Regions from separate parts of the Homo sapiens genome. Here region 2 is linked to region 1. The links come from fine-mapping of genetic effects on gene expression. A gene starts in region 1. The other region holds a variant in brackets. All regions are shown on one strand. Distances are from middle to middle.

Region 1 (5,368 bases):
TTTCTGAAACAATGAGGCTGGAGACTGTGCAGATTGCACTTGTAATTTTCCTCTGACTGGGGAAGCCTAAGGCTCCACTCCTTCGGCCAAGTCTCCTTGGAACCTGTAGTTATTGGCTTGCTTAGTAATACTCATTACAATTTGGAGGGCAGGAGCTCTATTTTAGCCAGAAATTGTGGAAGAAGATCCTACATCAGCCACGTCTGGAGCTGCTTTTCTGCCCAAATCCAAAAATGTAATAGTAAACATTGAGAGTTTATACTGGGTCAGGCACAATGAGGAAACTGAGGCCCCAAGAGCTTAGGCAACCTGAGAGATTCCACAGGTAAAAAGTGGCAGAGCCAGGATTTCAACTCAGTTGGTCTAACTCCAAAGCTTGTGATCCTTATATCACCCTACACCTTCCAACACGGCTGATTATGGACCAGGAAACAAAAAGAGGGAAGCCTCACTTAACTGGCCGCAGAAAAAGCCTCTGAAAGAACATAGATCAGTTGGGCTGACACATTGTGCCCACACTGTGCACTGAACAGCCCAGTTGAGACTGGATCCTTTAGCAGAGGTTCCCAAACCGTGCATTGGAATAAGTAAGTGTTTAAGGGCCTCATTCCAGGGCTGCTAAATCAGAACTCTGGGAGTAGGGCCTAGAAATTTGTATTTTGAAAGCATTTTCCCAGTGGAGATAAGGGAACCGTTACCCTTGATTAGGATCTGATTTGGAACTTGGACTTCTGGATAACTCATGGTACAAAATGGAAGGAGGGTACAAGGAGGGTTTTACTTAAGCTACATCAAAGGAGGGGGCCTGACCTCGGGAGCGCCTTTGGTAGATCCACCATTTGTGCACTAATTTCTAAGCAGCTTCCCAACCTTCAGATTGCTGGGCCTCTGTTTCATCTCAAAGGGATAAGTGCTGTTGCCTGAAGGCAGGCAGACATTGCCACCTCTAGAACTAAGGGTAAGTAGTGGGAAGGCCACAATACTAACTCTCTCCTTCTTCCTCCTATTAGCCTTTCAGTGTTATGATGTACCCAGCTGGTCCAGGATCTGGTGACTCCCCAGAAGGCTTCCCTGAACAACCAAGGCTCCAGCCACAAACTGGAAATCGTGCAACTCAGACACTGGGTACTGAAACTGGGTGCATTGTCCAGTCCCTCCTTCAGAGCCTGTTTGGGGTAGAAGATTGGGGGAGGGGGACTGGGGAAGAGAGACTCAAAGAGGTCGCAGGTGGCACAGAAGTGATGGCAGAACTGGCCTTCATTTAGTGACATATGCTTTGTTCAACCAGTCAGTAAAGGCTTATGTGGTGGCTAGTAGTGCTAGCGAATGCAGATTCGGCCGCTTGCAAAACCAACGAGCAAGGTCGTGGTATGGTAGAAGGAGACTGACTTTATTATAAACCAAAGCTAGCAGTGGGGAAAAACGATCCAGGCTTTTGCTTTAATGGAGCTGCTTCACATTTCCAAGCAAAATGCGAGGCTTTAAGAAGTTTTGGCATGGAGGGTATGCAAGGGGTGAGGCAGTGCAGGTCTTCATGACGAGTTCTGATGACTTGTCTTGAGTTACTGCCCATCTGGTGAATGGGCTGGCATCATCTCGGGCTGGGCTGAGTTATAAATTAACTGTAGCCTTGAATCAATCTCCTGGTGGAGATTTCCACAGATGCCTATATTGTTTCAAGATTTAGTCTCTGGAACTTTTAAGCGAACATACAATTAGATATGCTAACAGTGTGTATGGGGGGTGCTGGGGTGTCGGGGGGTGCCTAGTGGTTAACTGAACAAAAATAAAGAAATAGAAGTATATAACAAGAATATAACTTCCAAGCTGGGTACTTGGTTACAATAGGTGCTTGGATTGTATTAGAGATACCTCAAAGTGAGCAAACAACCAGCCAGAACTGGTCCCTGGCCTTGTGGAAGTTTCTCTCTTCTGTCTCTCTCCTCTCTCCCTTCTCTCTCTCCTCTCTTTGTCCTCTCTCCTTTCTTTCTTGACTTCCTTACCAATGGGAAACCCTGTTTTTCTAGATTAGGGAAAAGAAGGCCCGTTTAGAAAGTAGGGAAGGAGACAAAGTCTTACTTCCTGAAGCAAGGTAGGACTCAATTTGTGACCTAGAATCTGAGACAGGGAAGTAGAGGCAGGAAAACGGGGGAAATGGGGGAATAACTCGCTTCCTTTCTGGGTCGAGAAGGGCTAGAAGTCAAGGTTCAGTGGAGCCTTAGAGAAAGTCCAGCTCTTCATTTTACAGGTGAGGAAACTGAGGGGCGGAGAGGCTATAGTGTGGTAACAAGGTGGACACCTAGTCAGCTGCAGAAGTGGGAATAAACTGTGGCCTTTGAATAACACTATGGGGCCTCCAGTGAGGCGCTCAATTTTAATTCGGGACGCCTGGGTGGCAGCCGGGTGCTAGGGGTGGCTAGTTGCCATGGGAACCGGCTCCTCCCACTTCCTGCGTGCGCACCCGTAGACCTGCGCTCCCAATAAAGTTGTTGTTGAAGCGCGGCGGCGGCACCACGTGGGCCGGACCGGGCCGGGGGCGGGGCCGAGCTGAGGGAGGACCTGCTGGCTGCAGTGAGGAGCGGAGGCGGGCGCGGGCGGCCGGCCATGATCGCGTCGTGCTTGTGTTACCTGCTGCTGCCGGCCACGCGCCTCTTCCGCGCCCTCTCAGGTACCGGCCAGGCGTACCGACAGACAGGAGCCCGGCCAGGGCTCGCCTCTGCGGGGCTCCGCGGGCCTGGGGCGGCGTGCGGTTGGCCGGGCCTCACGACTACCGTGCCCCGGGCAGTGCCGAGGTGTAGGGAGGCGGTCCTGAGCCCCTGCCCCGCGGGCCCCTCCTGACCCCACGAGGCCTGGACCTGGCCGACGTCCCTCGTGGGCGGCCCCTCCTCCCGCCTGTTGTCAGATGGCGTCCGGCCGCGGTTAAGGTGGAGAGGAGCTGTGGACGGGCAGGGCCCTTTCCTGGCCCTGGGGGTGCAGAGAAATTGTGGGGTCGGCCAAGTCAGCACCCCGGCGGGTCGGGAAGGGGTAGTAGCTCGGACCTAGGCGAGTGCCCAAATTCTCAGCGGGCGAGGCGGGTCGGCTCTGGGAGGTTTATGGCCGAAGTACTGGACGCACCGATCTTCCCCAGGTTAACTTCACACTCGCCTTTCACTGCCACCTGGCAGCTCTCGCTCACCGGTGTCTTTGGTTGAAAAACGGACGTTCAATCAGAGACACATTTAGATCTCAGCTTTGGAGCATTCCTGCCCCCACTCCCGGCGGTTTAGAGGGAGATGTGCTGGGGTGGGGGCAATGCCCAGTCGATACCTCAAAGAGGGGGTGTTTATTTCGTTATTGTTTCATAATTTGTCTGCATTCTCTATTTCTGGGCTTTGAAATTACGGAGGGTTTTATGCGACCATCAGTTTCTGAGATCCCATGGAACTCGCAGACTTTTTGCCTTTAATTTATGGGACAGGACCAAGAAGTACTTAGGAATGAGGGCTCCAATTGTATATTCTGTGGTTTTCCTTTGTGGAACTTTACACAATTGGTACGCAATGTGTGTGTCATTGATAATATATATTTCATATAGAAATATTTTAAATTTTACTGTGTATCTGCCATTAGAATGCAAACTTCAGGAGCGCAGGGCCACGTCCATTTTGTTCGCTGTATCTCTGGTGTTAACACATTGCTTGGTATACAGTAGGCACTCAGTGAATTCAGGAATGTCTTGTGTGTCCATACTTCTGAGGAATGTGGGAAACTCCACAGAAGTAATTGTTTCCAGAGAACTAAACATATTCTTTTAACTATGTTGCTGTTTTTCCTGGAGCTCTTCTAATGCCTTAGTGATACAGTATACTAGTCCAGAGGTTTCCAGACCAGTAGAGTTCTAGGGATCTCAGAGGAGGGCCCCCCCCGCCCCCCCACCTACACATTACAGTAGTCCCACTTATATTTACTTGGCATATTTGGTTTCCAGATAAGATTTTTAAAAAACAAAAGCATTCTGCTGCTGAAAATCCACCACCACCACCACCAAAAGACATCTACCAAAATTGAAAGCTAGTAACTTCGTGCATATGAACCAAAGAACCTCTGCCATCTGGTATACACAGAGGATATTTCAAGGGGCAGATAATCAGGAAGTCCTTGAGGCTAAAGCTCAACGACCCAGCCCATACATAGGTTTAGAGCAGGGTTTCTCAATCTCAGCACTGTTGACGTTTTGGACCGGATCATTTGGTGTGGGTCTGTCCTGTGAATTGTTGGAAGTTCAGCAGCGTCTCTGTCCTCTAACCACTAGATGCCAGTAGCAATGCTGCAGTTGTGACAACAACAGTGTCTCTGAACGTTGCTAAATGTCTTCCGAGGGCAAAATCACCGTGGTTAAAACCATTGTTTAGAAGGACATAAATATACATAGACCCCAAACAAGATATTTGAACCGTCTTTCAATATTTGAGCCACTTTTAAGGTTTCTTCCCTTTAAAAAAAAATTGCCAATAAAATGAGTCTAGTGATTGAGGGCCAGCATCGTGCATGTTACTCGTCCTGTGCTGTAAATAAATGGTTGAGTGTGTGAGTGTAGGAGTTGTTTGCTCTCACCAAAATACTGTGCTCAGAGTTTGGGGGCTCTAATTTTAGAGTTTTTCCCACTTTCTTTCTTGCCTGTTGGCTGTCATTGGTGGCTGCAGTATCAGAGAGATGTCAGCTGTCTCTTACTGTCGATTGTTGGCACCTTGTAATTTATAGCCTCTGATGTGTTGTGGAATGGGAAAGCAGATAATGAAGTTTGTGAAGATTTTATTACAATAAGTAGCTTTGAGAAAAGGCTTAAGGGCCCTTGCTAAGATGTAAATTGTATAGATTTTTGAGACTGTCTACTTTAGGACTTTTTCTTTTGGAATACATTAATAGATTAGGGAATTTATACAGCTAGAAAAGCTCAGAGATTATCTAGTTCAAACTTGTCTCTATTTTTTTAAATTTAAAATTTATTTTTTTCTTTTCTTTTCTTTTTTTTTTTGAGATGAGGTCTCACTTTGTCTCCCAGGCGGGAGTGCAGAAGGGCAGTCATAGCTCACTGCAGCGTCAACCTGGGCTCAAGCAATCCTCTCATTTCAGCCTCCCAAGTAGCTAGGACCATGGGCATGTGCCACCGTACTTGGCTAATTTTTAATTTTTTGTAGAGATGAAGTTTCGTTATGTTGCCCAGGCTGGTCTCTAACTCCTGGCCTCAAGTGATCCTGCTGCCTCTGTCTCTGCCTCCCAAAGTGCTGGGAGCCACCACGCCTGGCCTCTTGTCCCCATTTTACAGTCAAGAGTAACTTCATCTGACTAGGGGCATTGTTCAAGGTCAGTTTTATTAATTTTGGTGCTA
Region 2 (5,368 bases), 41 kb after region 1:
CATGAAGGAGGCACTGCCTGCAGCCTGAATTTCTCGGGTGGCCTCAGGCTTATCCCAGCAAAGAACCCCATAAACAGGGCAGGGATGTCGGGCTCCAGAAATGGGCCTGCCCTGTTAGCAAATGCCTGCCATAGTGGCGTTCCCTCCGAGACCTCTGCGGGAAGAGAAGGGCACCCGCAGCCTCTTTGTGTGAACTTCAGGCAGGCATGTCTGTGTGGGGGGTGGGGATGGACCCCTGGATCACAGTCCTCCCAGGACCTGCCCTCAGATGGGACTCCTGTTCCATCAGACCCCCTCCCCGTCACCCTCTTGGCTCCCACCTAATCTGTGCTCCTCTGCAGCACTGAGCCCAGTGGGCTGCCTACCCCAGGGGCGCAGGCAAAATGTTTAAAAGCTGGTAAAGAATACGGGCAGGGTGGAAGAGATGAAACAGAATTGGCTTTGAGTTGGTGAAGCTGAGTAACGGGTGCACAGGAGTTCATGATGTTGTTCTAGGTTTCACGTGTATTTATGACATTTTTAATAATAAAATGACTGAGAAGAAAAGGTAGGGCTCAGGCATTGACCAGTTAGGATGGAGAACCAGCCATAAACACTTCCTCCTCTCCCGCTGTTGACTGTGGGGCTGGGGAGGACAGCCTCTCCTGGTGGCTGGTCTGTCTCCAAGGCTACCCTGGTGACTCAGCTACAGGCCCCACTTCTGCCCTTTGGGTTGGAGGCGGGGGTGTGACTGGAAAACCTTGTTTGTGGTTTTTTTTTTTTTTAAGGCAGTTTTGCTTTAATATCTCGTCCAGAAATCAACATGTTCTGGAAATGCCAACATCTGGGCATTCCAACTGTGCCTCCCAGACTGTCTAGTTCTTGGAAATGGTACAACTGTCTTTGTGAGACACTGTGCCCTGATTTGGGGTTCAGAAAACGGTCCCTGTATCCACGTGACTCAAAAAAGAGCTGCCCAGTAAGCCTGGGAAGGTAGCAACTGAGATGTGGGGTACTGGGACCTCGGGGCTCCTCCATTTTGGGGGGTTCTTCCACTTTAGTGGGGTGCTTCTCCATCTTGGGGCCAAGCAGATGACTGCATATGGGAGAGCCCTGGAGCCCATTCAACCTACCCCACCCTCACTTTCAGAGCAGGAAGCTGAGGCCCAGAGAAGCCCGGACCCCTCCCCTTCAGGTGAGGAAGGATACATTCCCAGGATCACGGCTTCCAGGCATTTGATTGGCAGGGCCTCTTTGGTCATTTCCTTGGCCAGGTCCATCAGCCTGTGGGAAAGGGAGGCAGGTCAGTAAGGACAGCGCCTCCAGCCCCTCCAGGGGAATGTGAGAAGGAGGGGGCAGGGTGGACTAGAAATGCTAGAAGGACAGAGGCTGCCCCCTAAGCTGCTCTCAGCTCAGGCCCAGCACCTCCCTCCACACTCCCGACGGACGGAAGTCTGGAGCCTGAGGGGGTGGGAAAGAGGCGGCCACTGCTGATAGGAAGGAGGCCCACTCTCCCTGCTCTTCCCTTCTTTCACTTCCACCTCCCACGCCTGGCTCTTGCTCCAAAGAGCTCTGGGGGAGGGCAGCAGAAGCTGGGGGCAACTTCTCTCCAGCCACCAGGCTGGGGCCTTCTGCGAGGCAGTCGGGGGAGGAGGGACGTCAGCATCGATCTCTTCCCTTCTGAAGCACAGTAGACACCACTGACCCAACCATGGCTTCTCCCAGGAGCTTGTTAATTGACTGCAACTGCCTCCCCGCAGCTGCCTGAGCCTGGATGTGGGATCTTAGGCAGATAGTTACCTGCTGACTACAGATCTGCTCCTGAACTTGGAATTCAGGCCATTTTAAGACAGCCTTTCCCTGAGGCGTGGTTCCTCCCTCTGTCCCCAGCCTGGGAATTCAGCCTGGTCACTGGCTTTGCCCAGGAGGGCACCCAGACTCCTCCATGCCAAGTAAGGCTGGAGTGGTTCCCCAGCACACAGCAGCCACAGGCCAACAAAAGCAAAGCTTTGGGGATAGGGAGGGTGGACTCCATCCAGGGCCTCGGAGAGGGTGTAATTAAGTAATTTTGCTAATAAGCCATTTAAATGCATTTTCACAAAGAAGCAAACATAGATTATGTGTGGGGCAAGATGTAAACTTCATATGAAATTTTTTTTCTTTTTCTTTTTCTTTTCTTTTGAGACAGAGTCTCGCCCTGTCACCCAGGCTGGAGTGCGGTGGCGTGATCTCGGCTCACTGTAACCACCGCCTCTCAGGTTCAAACGATTCTCCTGCCTCAGCCTCCCAAGTAGCTGGGATTACAGGCACCCACCACCACGCCCAGCTAATTTTTGTATTTTTAGTAGAGATGGGGTTTCACCATGTTGGCCAGGCTGGTCTCAAACTCCTGACCTCATGATCCGCCCACCTCGGCCTCCCAAAGTGCTGGGATTACAGGTGTGAGCCACCGTGCCTGGCCAATTCACATGAATTTTTAAAGCCCAGGGGTCTTAAGTCTGTGGGCATCTTTGGGCAGAGCCCCTAGACCCAGCTGTGGCATTCACTCTTCACTCTCCTCTGCCCTCGGGGCTTCATGGGCAGAAACTTTCCAGGGGAAGTGAATCCAGGCAGGGGGCTACACACGGG[GT/T]GGCGGGATGGGAAGTGAGAGATGCAACATTCTCTCCAGGGAGCTCCCTGTGCTCAGACCCTGAGCCTGCTACTCAATGCCCAGAAAAGAGTCCACGGAGTAAGGCAAATGGGGTGACCATGCAAGTACCCTGCAATGGGAATCAGCAATGGGGAGTGCGGCAGCCGCAGAACAGAGAAGGGAGGGCTCTCTCCTGCAAGGTCCACCTCTCACTAAAAAACAAAAGATCTGAGGCTCACCTACAATCCACCTAGGACCACCCTCTCTCCTGGCCAAGGCAAGAGCTGGGGGCGGCTCTCCCACCCTCTAGCTCAGCATGGACCCGGGATTTCCTTTTCATCAAGGCAGCCCTGGCTGTTCATCTCAGCCGGATTTTTCTCTTTATGACATCCATAAGGCCCCAGGGTGGCACCTGCCCCCAAAGGCTGGCTTCCTTCAGAAGAGTCCCTGACTGCCCCATAAACTTCCTCTCCAAGGTGCACTATAGGGCTTTCAAGAAGCTCCAAGCCAGCCCTGGGGCAGAGGACTGGCCTCCCCATACTTACCCTGTCAGAGGTCTGCTCTTCTTAATTTCAAAGAACTGTGTCCCTGTGTGATTGTACCTGTGGGCACGGGTTAAGGGCTTCCTAGCTTGGCCTGAAGGAGGTTGACCCTCTCTTCCTGCCTATCCTGAAGCTCAAGAGCCAAGTCTCCTGGAGGGGAGATGGGGGCACAGCATGAATTCTTCTCCCCGCCTCACGCCTCCTTCTCTTTCCCTCTCCCTCACCCTCCTTGGCTTTCTCCCTTGTTCTCCCCTGGCTTCTCTTCTTAGGACAAGAGACATGGAGCAGGCGACCAGTTCGGCGAGGGCCAGAAAGAGGCTGTGGCTGGGAACAGCGCCCTACAGCACTTCATCTTCCAACCAGCTGAGAAGCCACAGGAACTGAGAGGAGGCTAGGGTAGGGGGTCCAACTCAGCCTTTAATTGCTCCTGAGCCAGCCACCTGCCTCACTGGACCAGTTTCCCCACTGGCAGAAGGAGGAGCTGGACCCGATATGCAGTCATCAGCCTGGCTTCTCCCGACCCAGGACCCATGCCTAGCTCTCCCATCTCTGACCTCTGCAGCCAGAAGCCTGGGAGAGAGGACCCAGGACACACAGCTCTGGGGCAGGGTGCAGGGGCAGGGTGCAGGGGCTAGAGCAGGGACACAGAGGAATCTGGGCCCAGGGGAGCCCAGCTCTTCCCCTGCTGGCCAACCATCCTACTGCCAGGGAAAAAAAGGAGAAGAACTGGAGAAAATTCTAGGATCCTGAAGTTACCTCCTGGAGCAGAAAATCCTTTTTCTCTGCCATTTTTCCCTTTATTCAAAATCAGACTTTTAAAAGCCCCAAGGCAGCTCCCTCTCTCCCCCTCTGCTAGGGCTGGGTGGACAACAGAGCAGATCTATCTAGACTTGGCCACCCCACCAGCAAGTCACTCAGGACCCATTTTCCTCTCTTTACCCCATCACACGGCAGGAGCGGGAAGGGGGTGGCAGAGAGTGCAGAGTGGGCCCTGCACTCATCAGACAAAATTCCTCCGACACCCAGGAGGCACACGCGCCGCGTCCCACAGCACCAGGGAGCACAGAGATGTCACGTGAATGGTGGCCCTGGCGTTGTGGAATGAGGCGGCTCTGCTGATACCTCTCCAGCTCTGCCTGGAAACAAGGCCCACCACACCGGCCAGAAGGTGGCCATGACCCTTGACCAGAGAGGATACTGCAGCTCTCTGATGTAGCGCTGCACAGCTTCCAGGCGCTCAGGGACAGGTGTAGACGGCTGGAACGTAGGCACACTCGGTATGGGGATCTGGGGACAGAGAAAGAGCTCCGGTCACAAGAAGAGGCTCACCTTGGAGCTTCCAGTCCACCAAACACCTAGGACTGGCCCCAGAGGCGCCCCACCCTGGGGAGGCACAGCCTCCCCTCCCTCCCACTTGAGCTTCCTTTCTTGGCACCCCACTCATTCGAAGACTCTTGCCAGGGCCCCAGCCCAGCCATTCCTTCCCTCCTGGGACTTAACAGCATTCCTCATTCAGAGTGTATGCTGATGTTCCAATTTTATGCTTCTTTAATAACTTCAGAAAAACATAGGTTAATTCACTGACTATTTTAAATTTTAAATATTCATTAGTTTCAAGACTTAAGAATATAATATTGGGGTTATTTTAGGTTTGAAGTTTGCTCTGGTTCAAGCGCCGGATCAAAGCTGGTATATCCGGGGTCCCATCTTCTCAGGTGGTGCCCTAGGCTTTGGGAGTGGTCCTGAGGGGGGTGAGCATCCTTGGTAGGGGACCCACCCAGTATCATGGGCATATTCGCCATGCCTTCCAGAGCACCAACTTGAACTGTCAAGGAGTCAGTCAGCGGTAGCAGGCCAGAAGGACATATTTTGGAACAGGTCTTGCTGTAGCTCTGTGGCTGGGGCATGCACAGAGGGGCCGGGTCCTCCTCCAAGTCTTCTCTTTCCTGCCAGCTCCACACCTAGTCAGTACAGGTTTCCAGGTACCCAGACAGTCTTCCTCCCCAGAACGCACTTTCCAGCACCCAGCCCAGAAATGGCAGAGGAGAGAACAGGCAGTGTTTCCCGATGCCTGGGAGCCTGGAGGCTGCTGGGGGTAAGGTCAAGAACAGCTGACCCCCAGGCTTCCCTCAGCCTCCAGTCTCCAGAAAAGAGACCATTATGCCAGTATGGGACCCTCTCCAGCCAGGGGAGCCCGGATCTGGCAGTTTGGCTGCCA

Direction of the effects. Alleles are on the strand shown, and positions count from the first base shown. SD is a standard deviation of normalised expression in the study named.
With allele T in place of GT in region 2, the expression in prostate of the gene that starts at base 2,550 in region 1 is lower (small effect, 0.39 SD a copy in GTEx).

Evidence for each region. PIP is the estimated chance that this variant, and not a neighbour inherited with it, causes the effect.
Region 2: its variant is the best candidate, but not a certain one, in a credible set for the expression of ANGEL1 in prostate (GTEx, PIP 0.85).

Annotation. Positions count from the first base shown.
Region 1 is chr14:76,810,064-76,815,431 of GRCh38, reverse strand. ANGEL1 (angel homolog 1) reads left to right here and starts at 2,550. Exons shown (of 10, transcript NM_015305.4): 1 at 2,550-2,668. The coding sequence starts at 2,605. RefSeq lists a silencer at 2,483-2,912 and enhancers at 2,361-2,934, 2,935-3,509.
Region 2 is chr14:76,769,032-76,774,399 of GRCh38, reverse strand. VASH1 (vasohibin 1) reads right to left here. Exons shown (of 7, transcript NM_014909.5): 2 at 4,349-4,437; 3 at 3,154-3,210; 4 at 1,189-1,263. Among named protein-coding and RNA genes, the nearest start is that of VASH1, 10 kb to the right of the region's middle. The variant GT/T (reference allele first, on the strand shown) is at 2,608.